Regions from separate parts of the Homo sapiens genome. Here region 2 is linked to region 1. Evidence: fine-mapped expression QTL. A gene starts in region 1. The other region holds a variant in brackets. All regions are shown on one strand. Distances are between the middles of the regions. Region 1 holds the start of DGKZ (diacylglycerol kinase zeta). Region 2 overlaps AMBRA1 (autophagy and beclin 1 regulator 1).

Region 1 (8,330 bases):
TTGTGTCGCTCCAGAGGCACTGCAGGGCAGCCTCCAGGGGCTGCTTCCACACCTCCCAATTCTCTCCTGCCTTAAAGTGGGTGGAAGGGCTCCGGATCCCTGCTTCTCCGAGGGGCCCGCGCGGCCTAAGACTCAGGGCTAACCTATGACTCCACTTTCACCTCTGCCCCGGGGGGGCCACTGGCGAATTCTGGAGAGGCCTCCAGGGAGCCGAGGAGGGCAGGCCCGTTTCTCTCACTCTCCCCCAGCCCAGCTGCCTGGAGCCTCAGCTTTCTCTCACCAGGGGTCACTTAGTCCTTCCTCTGTCCTTGCCTGAGGGGACACCAACTCTCAAGCTCCTGTGCCAACCGAGAATCCTGGGCAGCTCCACATCCCAGGATCTGACCTTTTTGGAGTATGGCATGGAGACAAAATGACAAGAATTGTCATTCCCTCCCCTGACAGCGTTTGGCACAGAGGGAGACTGTGAGAATTCTACACTGGGTTCCCAGCAGGGGCCAGCTGTATACTCTGGCACCTGACCTTGTGTGGGGAGCAAACACAGTGAGATGAACGCAGCTCGGCCACTGAGGCCCATTTTTCTTTCCCAAACTTGCTGGAACCCAAGGATTCTAGGTTGTCCCTGCCTCTCACAGCAACCTGGGCTGCTCCCAGCATTAGCCCAGGTGAGACAAACCACTCAAAGAGGTTTCCTTTCGCTCCCAGACACCCTGGCACCATAGACAGGGTTCTCACCTCTGCAAAAGAGGCGTCCCTCAACACGTCCCTCCCTATTCATTGCAGAACCAACTCAAACAGGGGCTGCTTCTGCTCAGGCACCCGCTGGGCACCCTCTGCAGCCCTGACTTCAGGGCCATGCTCGCTGGGGCCGTGTGGCAGTGCCTCTAAATGGGACCCATTGTCTCACACTGGTTCTGCAGGTGTGCCTCCTGCCCTCTGGGAGCTTGTGACTTTGAGCACCGTGAAGGGCAGGGGATGGCGGCACAGACGCTCAGGCTCCTAGGGGCTCTGAGGCCAAGGCTCCTTATGTCTACATGTGTGAGGTGCCAGGTAATTTCTGATGCCCCTGGGGTGTAAAACCAGCTAATCCAGAAGCCCTGTGACCTGCCAGGATCAGGCTGCTGAGACCAGGCCAGAGGATAAGCGGGTCCTCCTTCCCGGTGGGTCCTGGAGGAGGAGAGAGAGTCCACTTCTCTCCCACTCCTGGCTGCCCAATCCTTAGGGTCAACAGAAGCTTAAATGGAAAGGTCCTGCCTGCCCTCTGCTCAGGGTAGAGGAAAACTAAATACCCTGGGATCAGAGTAGGGGCCTGTACCTCCTCTCCTCCTCCTCCTCCTCAGGGAGGAGACTGATAGTTCCGGCAAGAAGTAAGGTGGGATGCAGTTGGGGTGGGAGGAATCCACAAGCTGGGGAGAATCATGGCTCACTGAGCTAAAAAAAAAAAAAAAGGGAGATGGCAAGCTGCCACCCCCCGATTCTGAGAGGATGACGCCAGTTGTGTGGGGCAGAGATGGACTTTAAGGAAAAGCCTCTTTCAGCCCCACAGGGGCTGCCATTCAGAGACTGTCCTACCCAGAGGGGCCAGGATGGCAAACATGTGGCCCATGTGCCATCAAGACCCCCTGCCAAGCCCACAGCAGACACTGCTAATTGTTCATGGAACTCTCCCCATGAGCCAGGGCCCGCATGCAGAATTCTCCACCTGGCTTCAGCAGCCACTGCCAACCTAGTTGTTACCCTTGATCTTCCCGTCGGGCCCCTCAACCCCAAGGCTGGATGTGTGTATGTGGGTGGGGTGGGGAGGGGGCGGGATGGGGGACATGGGGTGGATGACTGGGGAGAAGCAAGAGCTAGGTTAAGAGCTAGCATGGAGCTGGGATAAGATGAAGGGCTGGTTTCAGCTGGGGCTTCGAGGACTTTTACCTGAGGCTGCAACAAACAAACAAAGGTAGCAGGACCAGCCAAGCAGCATTGGAGGGGGCAGAACCCAGAGCAGGTGTACTATTCCACCCTTCCACATGTCTGCCCCCAGCACCCACCCCTTGGCCCCATCAAGTCAAAGGGAAGGAGGCCAGCCCCAGTGAGCTCCCAGGCCTGCCAGGAGAAAGTGCTTTCCCTTGCTGCTCTCTGCCTGATACTACTGGGTTCTCTGAATGTATTCATTTCTGAAGGCCCCACTATCCCCAGCACAGTGCTCCCAAACAAAGGACACTCCTTACATGCTTCCAGAGGTGCTGCTGAATTTTCTTTCCTCTCATCAGGCATCCTATAAGAGCACTTACACTCCCCAGCGTGACGGACTACTGTGCTTCTCAAACTTGATGGGACATGAGAATCACCTGGGAAGCTTCAAACAATGCCCAGGCCCCACCTCCAGACCTGATGGGTCAGACACGCCAAGGGAAGATCTAGGAATCTGTATTTCTTAAAGCTCCCTTGGCCATTGTGATGTTCCGTTTGGGATCCTGGTATAGAGAAAGGGATGTGGATTTTGGAATCACACCAACTTGACTTCAAACCTTATCTCTACCTCTTCCTTGCTATGTGACTCTGAGCAAATCCCCTCTGACTGTGTTTCTTTCATCTATAAAAATGGAGAAACAGGCCAGGTGTGGTGGCTCACACCTATAATCCCAGCACTTTGGGAGTCCGAGGTGGGAGGACTGCTTGAGGTCAGGAATTCAAGACCAGGCTGGGCAATGCTGTGTGAGATCTCATCTCTACAAAAAATTGGTTTTTTTTTGTTTTACAAAAGGAAGAATACCACCTACCCTGCTTATTTTAGAGAATTACATAAAGGTATCTGTTGGTTCTCTGGTTTCTTGTTCTTCCTCCCGAATGTGCTCATCCCTATACCCACAAACCTGTGCCCTTCAGAAGGGGCACAGCCACAGGTCAGAAGAACCCAACACTTGATACCCTGTGGGCAGCAACAGGAAGCCTCTGGTGGCGCCCCTCCCTCCCCCTGCGGAGCCTGTGAATACTGGAGGCTACATCCTGCAGAGCTGGGTGTAAACTGCTCCATCTTGCAGGGCTGTGGGTGACAAAACAGAGCTACTGGAAGTTTCACTCCCTGCTCTGTTTTATATGACATTGAAGCCTGCGTGGTAACACAGGAGCCCACGGAGCTCCATCTGCCAGTGTAAGAATTCAGATCTGTGCATGTGCTCAGAGACAGAGTGCAGGTGCAAAGAGTGGGCCCTAGCCCGGGTGAGACGGGTAGAGGGCACAAGTCAGCATCACGGGTATGCTAGCCCACACGACAGGAGAAAACCGCCCATGTTATTGGTGGGTAAAGTCTACCCAGGGAAGGGGCAGAGCAAAGCTAAGGGGCGGGGTGGGGGTGAATGCCACCAAGTCTAGGCAGCTGCAGAAAAGTGAGAGGGAGGCCTTGGGCAGACTCCAAGTGGTCAGAGTTCAGTCTGAGGTGGCTCTGGGGTCCTTGGCTGATTGGCTACAAGCTCCTTGGCCACCAGGGAAGGGCAAGGCTCGGTCAGGAAGAAGCGCAGGGAGCCAGGTCAGGTACTCCTGGGGCCTCACGTCCCTTACCTTACACCACGGCTACCAGGGCAGGCAGCGGCTCACGACCAAGAGCAGCACACTTGCCATGAACTGCCTGCACTCAGTCTTTCCACACTCTCCCCCCGGTTCCCCGCTAGAGTCCTGGTCAAAGCTCTGTCACAGGCACAAGATGGTGACATTTGGAGTGCTGGGGGAGGGGGCAAGATGAAGCTTGAACAGCCAGCAGATTCCAGACTCCAGCCCACCCCATCCCTTTCCCAGCATGGGCTGGAAGAGGGTAGAGGGAGACATGCTGCCTGCCTAGCAGAGGGATGGGCTGGGGTCTCTCTGCTAATTAAGAGCAAGGTAGGGCAGATGATCAGGCACCCCCAACCCCAAGGAGAAGCTTAACATGTTAAACAATTAAACCAGTGACCAGAGCTTGGGGACAAGCCATGTGTGGTGACGGTATCAACGGGGCTACGTTCTGCAGATGCCACGCAGTGATGGTAGGCAACCTGGTCCCACGAAAGTCCAAAGGGCGGTGTGATCCCCACCTCAGTGGTGCCAGGAGGCTCAGAGAGGCCCTGTTCTATCAGTGCCAAGAAGGCGTGGGTGACCAGTCCTGGGGGCCCAACCTGCTTGTGCCGGGGGCTGGGGTGATTCCATCTTCCTGCTGGAGGGTTGGGAGCCGATCCTCCCACGGTACTACACATGAGGCGCACTAGACTGCCGGTGCCAGGGAATGACCCCCACCCGGTGACAGTGCCAAGCCGACCGATCCCGCCCGTGTCCCGGCCCTGGGGGATGACTCCCAGTGGGTGCCCACGCCAAGACGGCTCGTGCCGCCGGTGCCAGCCTCTCCCCGACTCAGTGTCAGTACCGAAGTGGCCCGGACCCCCAGTGGCCGAGGAATGTCCCCCGGTGAGGGAGCGGTAACCTGCCGGTGCCTCGGTGCCTGCCCCGCCGCCGCCCCGCTCACCTGTGCCCGAAGAGCCGCAGCCCCGGGAAGCGCCGCTTGTTGAGTCGCCGCGGCGCCTTGTCCGGCTCGGGACCGGCGTCGCGCTCGGAGCCGCTGGACGAGGCGGAAGCCGACTCGGAGTCGCTGCTCCGGGCCTCGGGGCTACCGTCCCGCGGCTCCATCCGGCCCTAGCCCCGGCCGGCGGAGGGCCCGCGGGAGACGCCCATGCCGGGCCGGCGGCCGGGGCTCAGCACGCCCGCTCCGCGCCGCCCGCCACCTCCATGGCGCGCGCTCGCTCCGCCCGCCCCGCGCCGCGCGCCCCCGCTCCCCACGCCCAGGTGCCCGGGAAGCCGCTGCCGCCGCCGCTCCAGGAAGTGCCGCCAGCCGCGGCCGCAGGACCCCGCATAGCTGGCCGGGCCGCTGCCTGCCCGCCGCCGAGCACGCCCCCTCGGCCGCACGGTGGCACCGGGCCCGCAGCGCCCTCTGCCGGACGCCCGCTGCGCTGCAGCCCGCTGGGGCGGTCCGAGGGGCGGGGCGACGAATGGGCGGGGCAGCAGAAAGCCCTGCCCCCAGCCCGGCCCGGCCCGCCTGGATGGGACTGAATCTCCCGGCCTGGCACACTCGCACTGCGCGCATCCAGACGCGCATCTTTCCTCCCCCGATCCCTCCGCTACCAAACAACTGCACGCTCACAAGTGTACACTCGCGAGGGCTGCTGTCACCACCTCCCCTCCGCTCTCGCACACCCTACTCATAGCCACTCACAATCTCCACCCATACCTCCTTGGCTCCCCCAAATCGCACCCAGGGGAACAAAAGTCACACAGTGCTCCCCATGCACGCAGAACAAACACATCCCTTACACAATTATGCCCACTCATTACTTAAACGAACACTTCCCACCCCAGCCTCTCGCACTCAGTGACCAAAGTCACTTAATGACTCGCACACACACCAACAAAGAACTCACAAGTTTCTCCTACAAAGTCATCCTTCCACAGCTATTCACAATGGTTTCCAACCTTCTCACCCAGGCCCAACACATCGCATTTTCCTGACATAGTATTCAACAGAACCTATAGATCTCATATGCTACGGGAATCACCTGCACAGCCCTTACACACTCACAAATACACAGAAGGACAACAGGTACCACACTCCCATTCACAAGCACACATGCCCACACAGAACACACACCTTTCTCCTACATACAAATACTCCCAGGACAATGGTTACCGGTTGCCACATCCCTCACACATATGTATGTGTGTGCATATGCACACACTCCCATCCAGAAATATACCTCACATGCACACACAAAGACACCCCACAATGCAGCCGAGGCCGTCCCCCTCCAGAAATGAGAGCAATTGGAACCCAAGCAGTCACCTGTAGGGGCACAGCCATCACACACACCGGGGCTGTTTCTGATGGCCCCCGCAGGGCTGACGAAGGGAGGCCAGGAGCTGGGAAGCATGGTCTTCCACCTCCCCAAACCCTACCACCCTGCTGCCCACACCAGCTGCCCACTACTTCTGTGTGCACGCCTCTCTGCCAAGCCACATCCTGTGTCACCTTCGCTTTCATCCTCCCCTCTTGGGTTCTGGCAGCCCGTTTTCCAGCCTTAGTCAGCCGCAAATAGCCAATGCTTAGGGCTGTGACCTGCGGACAAGCCTGTGATTTTGAGGAAGAACCAGCACCCCGAGGCCCAGAACCCTCTCCCAGTTTCCTGCAAGTTGGGAGAAGGTCTGATCAGGGAGGTGGGGCTCCAGCCCTCCAGCCAGCAGCTGGTGCCAGGGTGGCCAGGAGGAGGGCAGATCAATCCCCAAGTATGCCTGACAACTGGCCTCTGGGGTGCATGGGTCCTTTTGGGGAAGTTTCCCAATGGCTCTTACTCCAAGCTCTGAGAGAAGAGATCAGAGGCAACTGAAGACCCCACGGAGTCTCCACAAGGCCTTGCAGCTGGGTCAGAAATCTCCAGCATCCAGTGCCACACTCCTGGGGGGGCTCCTCTTCCCAGATCCCCCCACTGCTAGCTTGCTCAACTCCTGGCCTCTCTCGAGCTCAGTTCCTCCACACAGTCCAAACATCAGAGCTCCCTGCACCCTGCCAATAACTCCTTTGCCCTACTCTGTGCCTCTGCAGAGTGCTGGATGACAGATGGGTGACCCTACTTCTGTCACCCCCATCTCAGATAAAAGGCTCATAGAGGGACAGAGGTCCCATGCCCACTCCCAGGCCACCCCTTGTACCTACTGTGTCTGGGGTGCCTCTGATGGGATCTGTGGCACGTCCCAGGAGCGGTAGCGCCACATCTGCCTCAGTGACCCCGGCCGCTCCCCTTCTTCCGTCCCCAGCGCCTCCACTGGGCCCAGAGCTGAGGATTCATTGCAGCTTCCCCCGGCACTGTGGCCAGCCCCCGGTGCGCTCATCCTGCCCGGCGACTCTCTTCCTCTTTCGGCACTTCCTGACGGGGGTGGGGTCGAGGGGGGGGCCTGCTAGAGGCCGCTGGCCGCCCAAGCTGAGGACCACAGGCTCAGGGCTCATAGGCGCCTTCCGCTGGCTGGGGCCAGCTGCCGTGAAGAGCTGCACAAGAAAGCAAGGGGCAGGTGGGGACAAGCCCAGACCAGCAGCCAGGAGGCAGCCATGGGGCTTGCTTGGGCTGGAATCTGCACCTGGGCTCCTGTCTGGTTTTCCTCTCCATTTAAACTGTCTGATTTTCAACTCTTGGTCCTGCTGAGGTCTCCCGCTTTATGACAACCACCAGGTACAATGGCTGGGTGTGCCCAGCCCTCAAAGAGCGCTCTCTTCCTAGCACTTCTGTGTGCAGCATACCATCTTACACAGGGCTGGGCATACAGGAAGGTGGTGTAGAGAAATGAGCAATGAGGATGGAGCCTGGAGACATGAGCATGTGTCCTGTTCTGCCTCTTACCAGCTCTGTGTGGCCTGGATCAGGTCATAAACCTCTCGGAGTCCTCTAAATAACTTTTGGGACAAGGTAGCCTATAAACAAATAAACTAATGAATACATGTGCCAGGGAGATTTTCTGAGCCTCAGTTTTCTCATCTGTAAAGTGGAGTAATAGGCCAGGCATGGTGGCTCACACCTGTAATCCCAACACTTTGGGAGGCCGAGGTGGGCAGATCACCTGAGCTCAGGAGTTTGAGACCAGTCTGGCCAACATGGTGAAACCCCATTTCTACTAAAAATACAAAAATTAGCCCGGCGTGGTGGCAGGTGCCTGTAATCACAGCTACTTGGGAGGCTGAGGCAGGAGAATCGCTTGAACCTGGGAGGTGGAGGTTGTGATGAGCCGAGTTCGCGCCACTGCACTCCAGCCTGGGTGACAAGAGTGAGACACTGTCTCCAAAAAAAAAAAAAAAAAATTGAGCTCATGGTGTTATCTGAGGAATAAAGAAGAGATAGGAAGGTTGACAAATTAATTCATTCAATAAATACTTATTGAATGCCTTCTGTGCATCAGGCACCGTATCGGAGAACATAGCTCTAAAAACAAGGAAGCAGGGCTCTGTCCTCACAGAGCTTAGATTCTAGTGGGGAAGACATTCAGGAAACAAACAATCTATGTACAATATAATGTCAGCAAACAAGATGTGCCATAAAGATTGGGAGGCTGAGGCTGGTGGGTTACTTGAGGTCAGGAGTTTGAGACTAGCCTGGCCAACATGGTGAAACCCCCTGTCTACTAAAAGTACAAAAACTAGCTGGGTGTGGTGGTGGACATCCGTAATCCCAGCTACTCTGGAGGCTGAGGCAGGAGAATCGTTTGAATTCGGGAGGCGGAGTTTGCAGTAAGCTGAAATCACACCACTGCACTCTAGCCTGGGCAACAGAATGAGACTC
Region 2 (8,330 bases), 120 kb before region 1:
TGGATGGAACTAACAGAGAAATTGGCCATGGGATTTGGAGGTAATAGTGCTGAAGGAAACACTGACTGGCTGATTTCCCCTCTCAACTTCATGGACACTTTTTCCTCTTCTCTGTTATTATTTCTGGGTACTGTGTGTTGGAGGTTTGGTTTGTGTGGACTCATCAGTCATTGTTTTCAGGCACTGAGTGCAGCTCTCCACCTTTTCCTTTGTGATATTAGTGTCTCCCCTATATGGAAGAGTGACCATTTTCTGAAAGGCTAATGCAGCTATGGAGGGGAACAGTGTTCTTTTCCGACACCTGGAGAATAGCTGTTAGGGTTTAGAATTCCTGAAAAAAATCATTTTAGTCTTGATATTTTAGTATATCCTTTATTTGAAGCTGCCTGCTTTCTTTGCCTTCTTTCTTGTGAATGCCACAGTTTCCTGTTCCACCTTTCTCCGAATCTGAGACCTTACAGTAAAAAAGAAGTATGCGACAAGAAATTACGGGATTCTCGTATCCAGAGCAAAGTGATGATGGTTGCAAGTTGACTATTTGACATTTTACAGTTTTATATGACTCATAACTTTTGTGTGGGGAGCATAACTGAAACAAATTATCAAACTGGGAATGGCCTCAGGGGCTCTGTCTCTGAAGGAAAGGGTTGGAATTTTGAGTCCTTGGGCCTTCTGAATTTGACAAATTGAATTATCCTAGGATTCCTCTGTCTCTCATTTTCATTTTTCATTGGATAGTCTGTGATGGGAGGGGATTTTTGTATACAGAGAAATAGACTCAATCAAAGAATACAGCAAACTAATACATGTGGAATTAAGGTCCAGTCTACCCCCTCAAAGAAATGTATGCTTGTCTGTTCCTTTTCCAACCTGGAACCTGGACATTAAACTGTTGAATATTTTGTCTATCTTCCCTTTTGGCTTTGATGTTCTTAAACGTTGAACGTTAGCAAATGTCATGGAGACACACCCATAACTACTTTCTTGTAAGGAAACCAAGGACTTGAATTCTTCTCTTATTCATAATTAATACTTTGCATTCCAAGTTATAGGTAGCACTGGGCGCTGGAGGCTGCCTGCCAGATAGGCTGACTAGGGTTTGAAGTTAGTTGGGTTGCTATTCTACTTTGCAGAAGAACCTAAAATACTTTAATTTTTTTTCTATTGATAAGACTGTTTTTCAGTTTAAGATATATTCAATTCACCTCACTCATTTTCTCCTCTCATCTCCTCTCCAAGTACTCAGGTTGATCCTATGGGAACATAATGTCATCCTCCTCATGTTATACATATATGCGGACTTTGTCAGGCTGAGCCTTAAAATGTCCATTTCTCAAGCGCACACTGTGTTCTTTCTCTTTCGACTATCTTGCTTTTTGTTTTTTTTCACTGTTCTGGCTCTGATATGGGTTAGCTGCCCTCAGTGAACCAGTACTGTATTTCTTTCCTTGAACTTAACTTTACCTGCTAGCCATAGGGAAAATCCAGAATGAGTACTAATCCTTTCTGGATTTCCCCCTCTGTCCAACAGACAGTATAGTATAGATGCTTAAGAACAAGGGTAGAGGCCAGGTGCCGTGGCTTACGCTTGTAATCCCAGCACTTTGGGAGGCCGAGGTGGGTGGATCACCTGAGGTCTGGAGTTCAAGACCAGCCTGGCCAACATTGTGAAACCCCGACTCTACTAAAAATACGAAGTCAGCCAGGCGTGGTGTCACGTGCCTGTAGTCCCAGCTACTCGGGAGGCTGAGGCAGGAGAATCGCTTGAACCTGGGAGGTGGAGGTTGCAGTGAGCCGAGATTGTACCACTGCACTCCAGCCTGGGCGACAGAGCAAGACTCTGTCTCAAAAAATAGAACAAGGTTAGAAATTGGGCCTCTGTTTATGTTGAGAAGTATATGAATAGACCTGTTCGTATTGATCATATACCTGATAATAATTAATTTATTTATTCCCTTATTCATTTGAAAGTATTTTCCTCCGGTGGTTCTAATATTTACTAACTTAATAATGAAATTAATCAACCAGGAAAAATATCAAACTGACTGATTTTACCACCACATTTATTGCTACTCTTTTTTTTTTTTCTTCCTAAATCAGGGCAGCACCCTGAACCAGTAAAAGTTCAGGGATCTCCTCATTGCTATTCTAAGGAGTAATATAGTCCTATTTTCAAGTTTGTGTGTATTCATTGGAATATACTTCTTGAGTGCTACTATGTGCTAGGTAGGTCCTACACTAAGTGTTGGGAATTTTTAACAGGAAAAATTAAGTTACCTTCTTTAAGAATCCTTAAAGGATCCTGTCCGGGTGCGGTGGCTCACGCCTGTAATCCCAGCACTTTGGGAAGCTGAGGCGGGCCGATCACAAGGTCAGGAGATCGAGACCATCGTGGCTAACACGGTGAAACACCGTCTCCACTAAAAATACAAAAAGTTAGCCGGGCGTGGTGGTGGGTGTCCGTAGTGCCAGCTACTTGGGAGGCTGAGGCAGGAGAATGGTGTGAACCCGCGAGGCGGAGCTTGCAGTGAGCTGAGATCACACCACTGCACTCAGCCTGGGCGACAGTGCGAGACTCCGTCTCAAAAACAAACAAACAAAAAAAGAATCCTTAAAGGATCCATTATTTTTCTGCCTTTTCAATACTTATTATTGCTATTCTACCTCCAGAAATCCTGGATTTTTTCTGATTCTTTATCACTGATCATTATATCACTCTGTGACAGTTTCCCCCACAAGTAACAGGAAGAATTAACTTTGTTTTATGTTAGGGCTTTATCCAAAGATGTCAATACAATACTCATCCTATCAGAGAAATGTGTTACAAAAATGCAAGTTATCACCCTCTCTACTTTTCTCTGTGTCACTTAAACACACCTAAAGTTCCTGGCACTCAAACCAGATGTACACAGGCTTCTTTTCCTCAGAAAGCTTTTTTGGGGTATTGCAGTGTCTTTCCAGCTTTAGCTTCCTTTGATGAGGTCAGTTGTCTCTTCCTGGCTATCACAGAGGCTGTCATGCTGACATGATACAGGAGGATGTAGTCTTTAATGAGTGCCTTTGGCACTACTTGTCAATTGCTTATTTTCCAGTGACGTTGCATTAAAGTATTAATTAACCACTAAATTCAAGTTGACCTCTTAATTGAGGAGGCTTTGCTTTCCTGAAGGCAGGCAGACTGACTTTCCTAACATGATCTAGCACTCTTGTATGCCAATAAGTTTTGATCAGTGTGTAAAATATACCTTTACTAAAACTGTTACTGTAATATCAGGTTGATTTGAGGTTGAGGAAGTCACACTGTGTTCTAGAGTGGGATTTATAAGTTGGTATGAGCAAGAGGTAAGGGACTGGTACCAAAGAGCAAGCCTGTGTTTCCTGGAGCATGTGTGGAGTTTGCCTGGTGAGCAGGTGACAGGGCAGGGAGAACAGCTCTGCTCAGTGACTCAGTGACATAGTTCCGAAGGCCACCAGATAAGGACTAGGAGACATTGTCTTACTGTAAGTGATTTGTGTTTTTATTATTGCTGACTTTACTGTTCTCTGAGTCTTTTGATTCCTTCAAATTGCTAAGAAATCTAGTATTCAAATGTATGTTGTGAACACAAAAAGATTGAGAACTACTGATCTTGTGTTTTAGAAAATAAACTAGAAGTTGACA[G/C]GTTGTTCTCCTGACTCCTTCAGTAATTCTCTATACAATTTGAGTGAGTCATTTAACCTCTGTCCACTTGACAGGTGAGGGTGTGGTACTTACCGCTATGTTCCTTCCAGAATTTAAGTAGGAAAAATTGGTAAAGTGCTCTAACTTCATTTGAAAAAGATATTATCTGTAGTCCAAAGGAAGAAAATTAAATATATGTCCTAGCACCCAGGTTATTTGCGGTAGCTGAACTACTTGAGACAAGCTGGGACTGCCAACTTTAGATGTTCCAGTGACAAGAACACCTCAATGCTAAGAGACAGGCTCAGGTGGCTGAAAAGGATCCATCTCAGTTTAATAAAAGGAGTTGCCAAAGAACATCTGAGTTGTGCTAGGCACCCTTGGGACATAAAATAAATACTTCTTGTTGAACTAAATAGAAGCGGTCACAGCAGCAGTAAGGAGGAGGTAAGACTTGTCCAGGATTTGCACAGAATCTTTTCATAGGCTGAATGTTGCTCCACAATGTGTCCTTTGACTATCTCTGGCTAATTATTATTTTAATCTCTTCTCAGCTTTTCCAAGAACATAACGTTAACCAAAGATCTTAGGCCATTCACAACTCTTTTGTAAAAATTAATGTGGATGTGAAACGAGGCAACAAATCCTGAAGTAGAAAGTTATTCCTGGCCAGGCACGGTGGCTCACGCCTGTAATCCTGGCACTTTGGGAGGCCGAGGTGGGTGGATCATGAGGACAGGAGATCGAGACCATCCTGGCCAACATGATGAAACCCCATCTCTACTAAAATACAAAAAATTAGCTGGGCATGGTGACGCGTGCCTGTAGTCCCAGTTACTCAGGAGGCTGAGGCAGGGGAATTGCTTGAACCTCGGAGGTGGAGGTTGCAGTGTGCCGAGATCACGCTACTGCACTCCAGCCTGGCAACAGAGCAAGACTCCATCTAAAAAAAAAACAAAACAAAACAGAAAGAAAGTTATTTCTTAACCCTTTTGGGGGAAATGCCAAAATACTCTTAAAGGAATATTACTCTGTTGCCCAGGCTGGAGTGCAGTGGGGCGATCTCGGCTCACTGCAACCTCCATCTCCCAGGTTTACCCCATTCTCCTGCTTCAGCCTCTCGAGTAGCTGGGACTGCAGGCGCCCGCCACCATGCCCAGCTAATTTTTTGTATTTTTAGTAGAGATGGGGTTTCACCGTGTTAGCTAGGGTGGTCTCGATCTCCTGACCTTGTGATCCTCCTGCCTCGGCCTCCCAAAGTGCTGGGATTACAGGTATGAGCCACCGTGCCCAGACGAATTTTTATATTTTTTAGCAGAGGTGGGGTTTTGCCATGTTGGCCAGGCTGGTCTTAAACTCCTGATTTCAAGTGATCCGCCCGCCCGAGCCTCCCAAAGTGCTGGGATTACAGGCATGAGCCACTGCATCTGGCGTGAATTCAAATTTCGTCTAAACTCTTGGTAACCTGGAGACCATGGGCAAATGGTTTATCTTGATCTGAGCCTCAATTTCCTCCTCATCTATTAGATAGGGATTCAGTAAATTCTTTCAGCAACTACCCTATCAGAAATCGCCATGCAACATTTTCCATGCCTCTTCCCTGTTTTATATTTCTCCATGGATCTTACCATAATTTAACATACTATATGGTGAACTTATTAGTTCTTTCTCCTCCTCCCTCTAGAATGTAATTTCCATGAAGGTGGGAATTTTTGTCTGTTTTATTCATTGTCTGGCATGTAGTAGATACTCAAATATTTGTCTGATGAGTAAACAAACTTCCTTTAGGGTGGTTGTGAAGATAGAATGGGAGCTTTTTATTTTATTTTTTTGAGACAGTCTCACCTTGTCACCCAGGCTGGAGTATGGTGGTGCAGACATGGCTCACTGCAAGCACCCAACTCCTGGGCTCAAGCAATCCTCTCACTTTAGCCTTCTGAGTAGCTAGGACCGCAGGCCCATGGTGCCACACCTGGCTAATTTTTTTTTTTTTTTTTTTTTTTTGAGACGGAGTCTCACTCTGTCGCCCAGGCTGGAGTGCAGTGGCGCCATCTCGGCTCACTGCAAGCTCTGCCTCCCGGGTTCACGCCATTCTCCTGCCTCAGCCTCCTCAGTAGCTGGGACTACAGGCACCCACCACCACGCCCGGCTAATTTTTTGTATTTTTAGTAGAGATAGGGTTTCACCGTGTTAGCCAGGATTGGTCTCGATCTCCTGACCTCGTGATCCGCCCGTCTCGGACTCCCAAAGTGCTGGGATTATAGGCGTGAGCCACCGCGCCCGGCCAACCTGGCTGATTTTTTAAAAAATTTTTTGTAGATATGGGGTCTCCCTATGTTGCTCAGGCTGGTCTTGAACTCCTGGCTCAAGTGATCCTCCCAGCTTGGCCTCCAAAGTGCTCGGGTTATAGGCATGAGCCATGGTGTCCAGTCTTGAATGAAAGCTTTTAGAGCACTTATTTTGGCACTTGGCATGTTTTCTTTAGCTCTAAGGAAGATAATACAAGTCTTATTTATATAACTGATTAATGTATAAAGTATCTTGCTACACAATGCTTAGTTATATCAGAATGCAAGTATGGATATTAGATTATTGTAAATTTTTAAAATGAAATAGGCTGGGCACAGTGGCTCATTCCTGTAATGCCAGCACTTGGGGAAGCCAAGTTAGGAGGATTGCCCGAGGCCAGGAGTTCGAGACCAGTCTGGGCAACATAGTGAGACCATATCTCTACCAAAAAAAAAAAAAAAAAAAGTTTAAGTTAGCTGGGCATGGTAGTTTGGGCCTGTAATCCTAGCTACTCAGAAGGTTGAGACAGGAGGATTGCTTGAGCCCAGGAGTTCGAGGCTGCAGTGAGCAATGATCGTACCACTGCACTCCACCCTGGGGCAACAGAGTGAGATCCTATCTCTAAAAAAAGAGAAAAAGAAAGAAATATATGTTGCTAAGTCTTATTCTTAGATTCATTTTACTCTGAAGATAACATATTTAAATTGTGCCTAGTTTATAGTATTTTCATTGTACATATTTTCATATAATGTACATATTTTCATACAGTTTTCATATATATTACACATATAATAGGTGTACATATTTTCTGTCTCCTTCAAGATTGTCAGTTCTCTCAAGTTAGGAACCATACCTTTTTTTCATAGTTGCTGTCCCCAATGTTTCTTTTACAGTCTGTTGTAATCTAAGGATTCTATTTCTTTTTTTTAACTCCTTACTATCATTCCCAAGGTACTCTGTTTCTAAAACATTCAGAGAAATAAAAAATTCTGTTATAAAAACAATGATTTCATTTTGGAGGAAGGGAAGATTAGGAGCTGGAGAGTTCAGCATAAAACACATTTTACCATATTCAATGAAAATACGTTAGATATAGATATAACTGTAAAGCCTAAACTAACTAAATCTAATATTTTATTACATCTTCTTTTTCTTTTTTTGAGGTGGAGTTTCCCTGTTGTCACGCAGGCTGGAGTTCAGTGGCGTGATTTCGGCTCACTGCAACCTCCGCCTCCCAGGTTCAAGTGATTCTCCTGCCTCAGCCTCTTGAGGAGCTGGGATTACAGGCATAGACCACCACACCCAGCTAATTTTGTATGTTTAGTAGAGACGGGGTTTTGCCATGTTGGTCAGGCTGGTCTCGAATTCCTGACTTCAGGTGATCCACCTGCCTTGGCCTCCTGAAGTGCTGGGATTACAGGCTTGAGCCACTGTGTCTGGCCTTCCTCCTTTTCTTTCTCTCTTTTTCTTTTTTCTTTTTTTTTTTTTTGAGACGGAGCCTCACTCTGTTGCCGCCCAGGCTGGAGTGCAGTGGTGTGATCTCGGCTCACTGCAAGCTCCGCCTCCCAGGTTCACGCCATTCTCCTGCCTCAGCCTCCTGAGTAACGGGGACTACAGGCGCCCGCCACCACACCCGGCTATTTTTTTTTTTGTATTTTTTTGTATTTTTAGTAGAGACGGGGTTTCACGGTGTTAGCTAGGATGGTCTCGATCTCCTGACCTTGTGATGCACCCACCTCAGCCTCCCAAAGTGCTGGGATTACAGGCGTGAGTCACTGCGCCTGGCCCTGGCCTTCCTTTTCTTTAAGAGTGATGCTTGTGCTACTAGGAGGCTGAGGTGGGAGGATTCCATAAGCCCAGGAGTTCAGAGTTACATTGAGCCAAGGGTAATGCTTGGGCCTCCTTCCTCTTCTTTTTTCTTTTTTTTCAAGAGATGAGGTCTCACTATATTGCCCAGGCTGTTCTCAAACTCCTGGACTCAAGCCATCCTCCTGCCTTGGCACCTCCTAAGGTGCTTGGGACTACCAGTGTGAGCCACCATGCTGCCCGCCACCCCTCCCCACTTTTTTTTGTATTAGTGATTGGTCCCACCACGCACTGCTTGCTGCATATTCTTTATCATCTATTGTTCTTATAATTCACAGAACCACTCAAAGAAGGCAGCTGTTGTTTGGCCATTTCTTCATTCAACAAATGTGTGAGGGTTTCCAATATACCTGTCACCATCCTATGCCCTGGAAGAATAGCAACCATGTTTTCCTAAGTAAACTGAAGATTCCAGGATCTCTTCTCACTATTCTAGCCCTGATTGAGGCCATTATGCTTTCGTAGCAGTTTCCTGCCTGGTTGTTCCCTGCTTATAATCTTCCCATGCCAGAAA

What was found. PIP is the estimated chance that this variant, and not a neighbour inherited with it, causes the effect. A credible set is the group of variants that fine-mapping cannot tell apart.
Region 2: its variant is the best candidate, but not a certain one, in a credible set for the expression of DGKZ in whole blood (TOPMed, PIP 0.78).

What each region holds. Positions count from the first base shown.
Region 1 is chr11:46,343,974-46,352,303 of GRCh38, reverse strand. DGKZ (diacylglycerol kinase zeta) reads right to left here and starts at 4,841. Exons shown (of 31, transcript NM_001199267.2): 1 at 4,484-4,841. The coding sequence starts at 4,644. RefSeq lists enhancers at 51-120, 1-518, 3,030-4,015, 5,919-5,968, 6,039-6,108 and 2 more and silencers at 3,533-3,692, 4,329-4,542, 4,505-4,554, 4,655-5,134.
Region 2 is chr11:46,467,924-46,476,253 of GRCh38, reverse strand. All of the region lies in intron 11 of AMBRA1 (autophagy and beclin 1 regulator 1), which reads left to right. Among named protein-coding and RNA genes, the nearest start is that of MIR3160-1, 20 kb to the right of the region's middle. The variant G/C (reference allele first, on the strand shown) is at 3,662.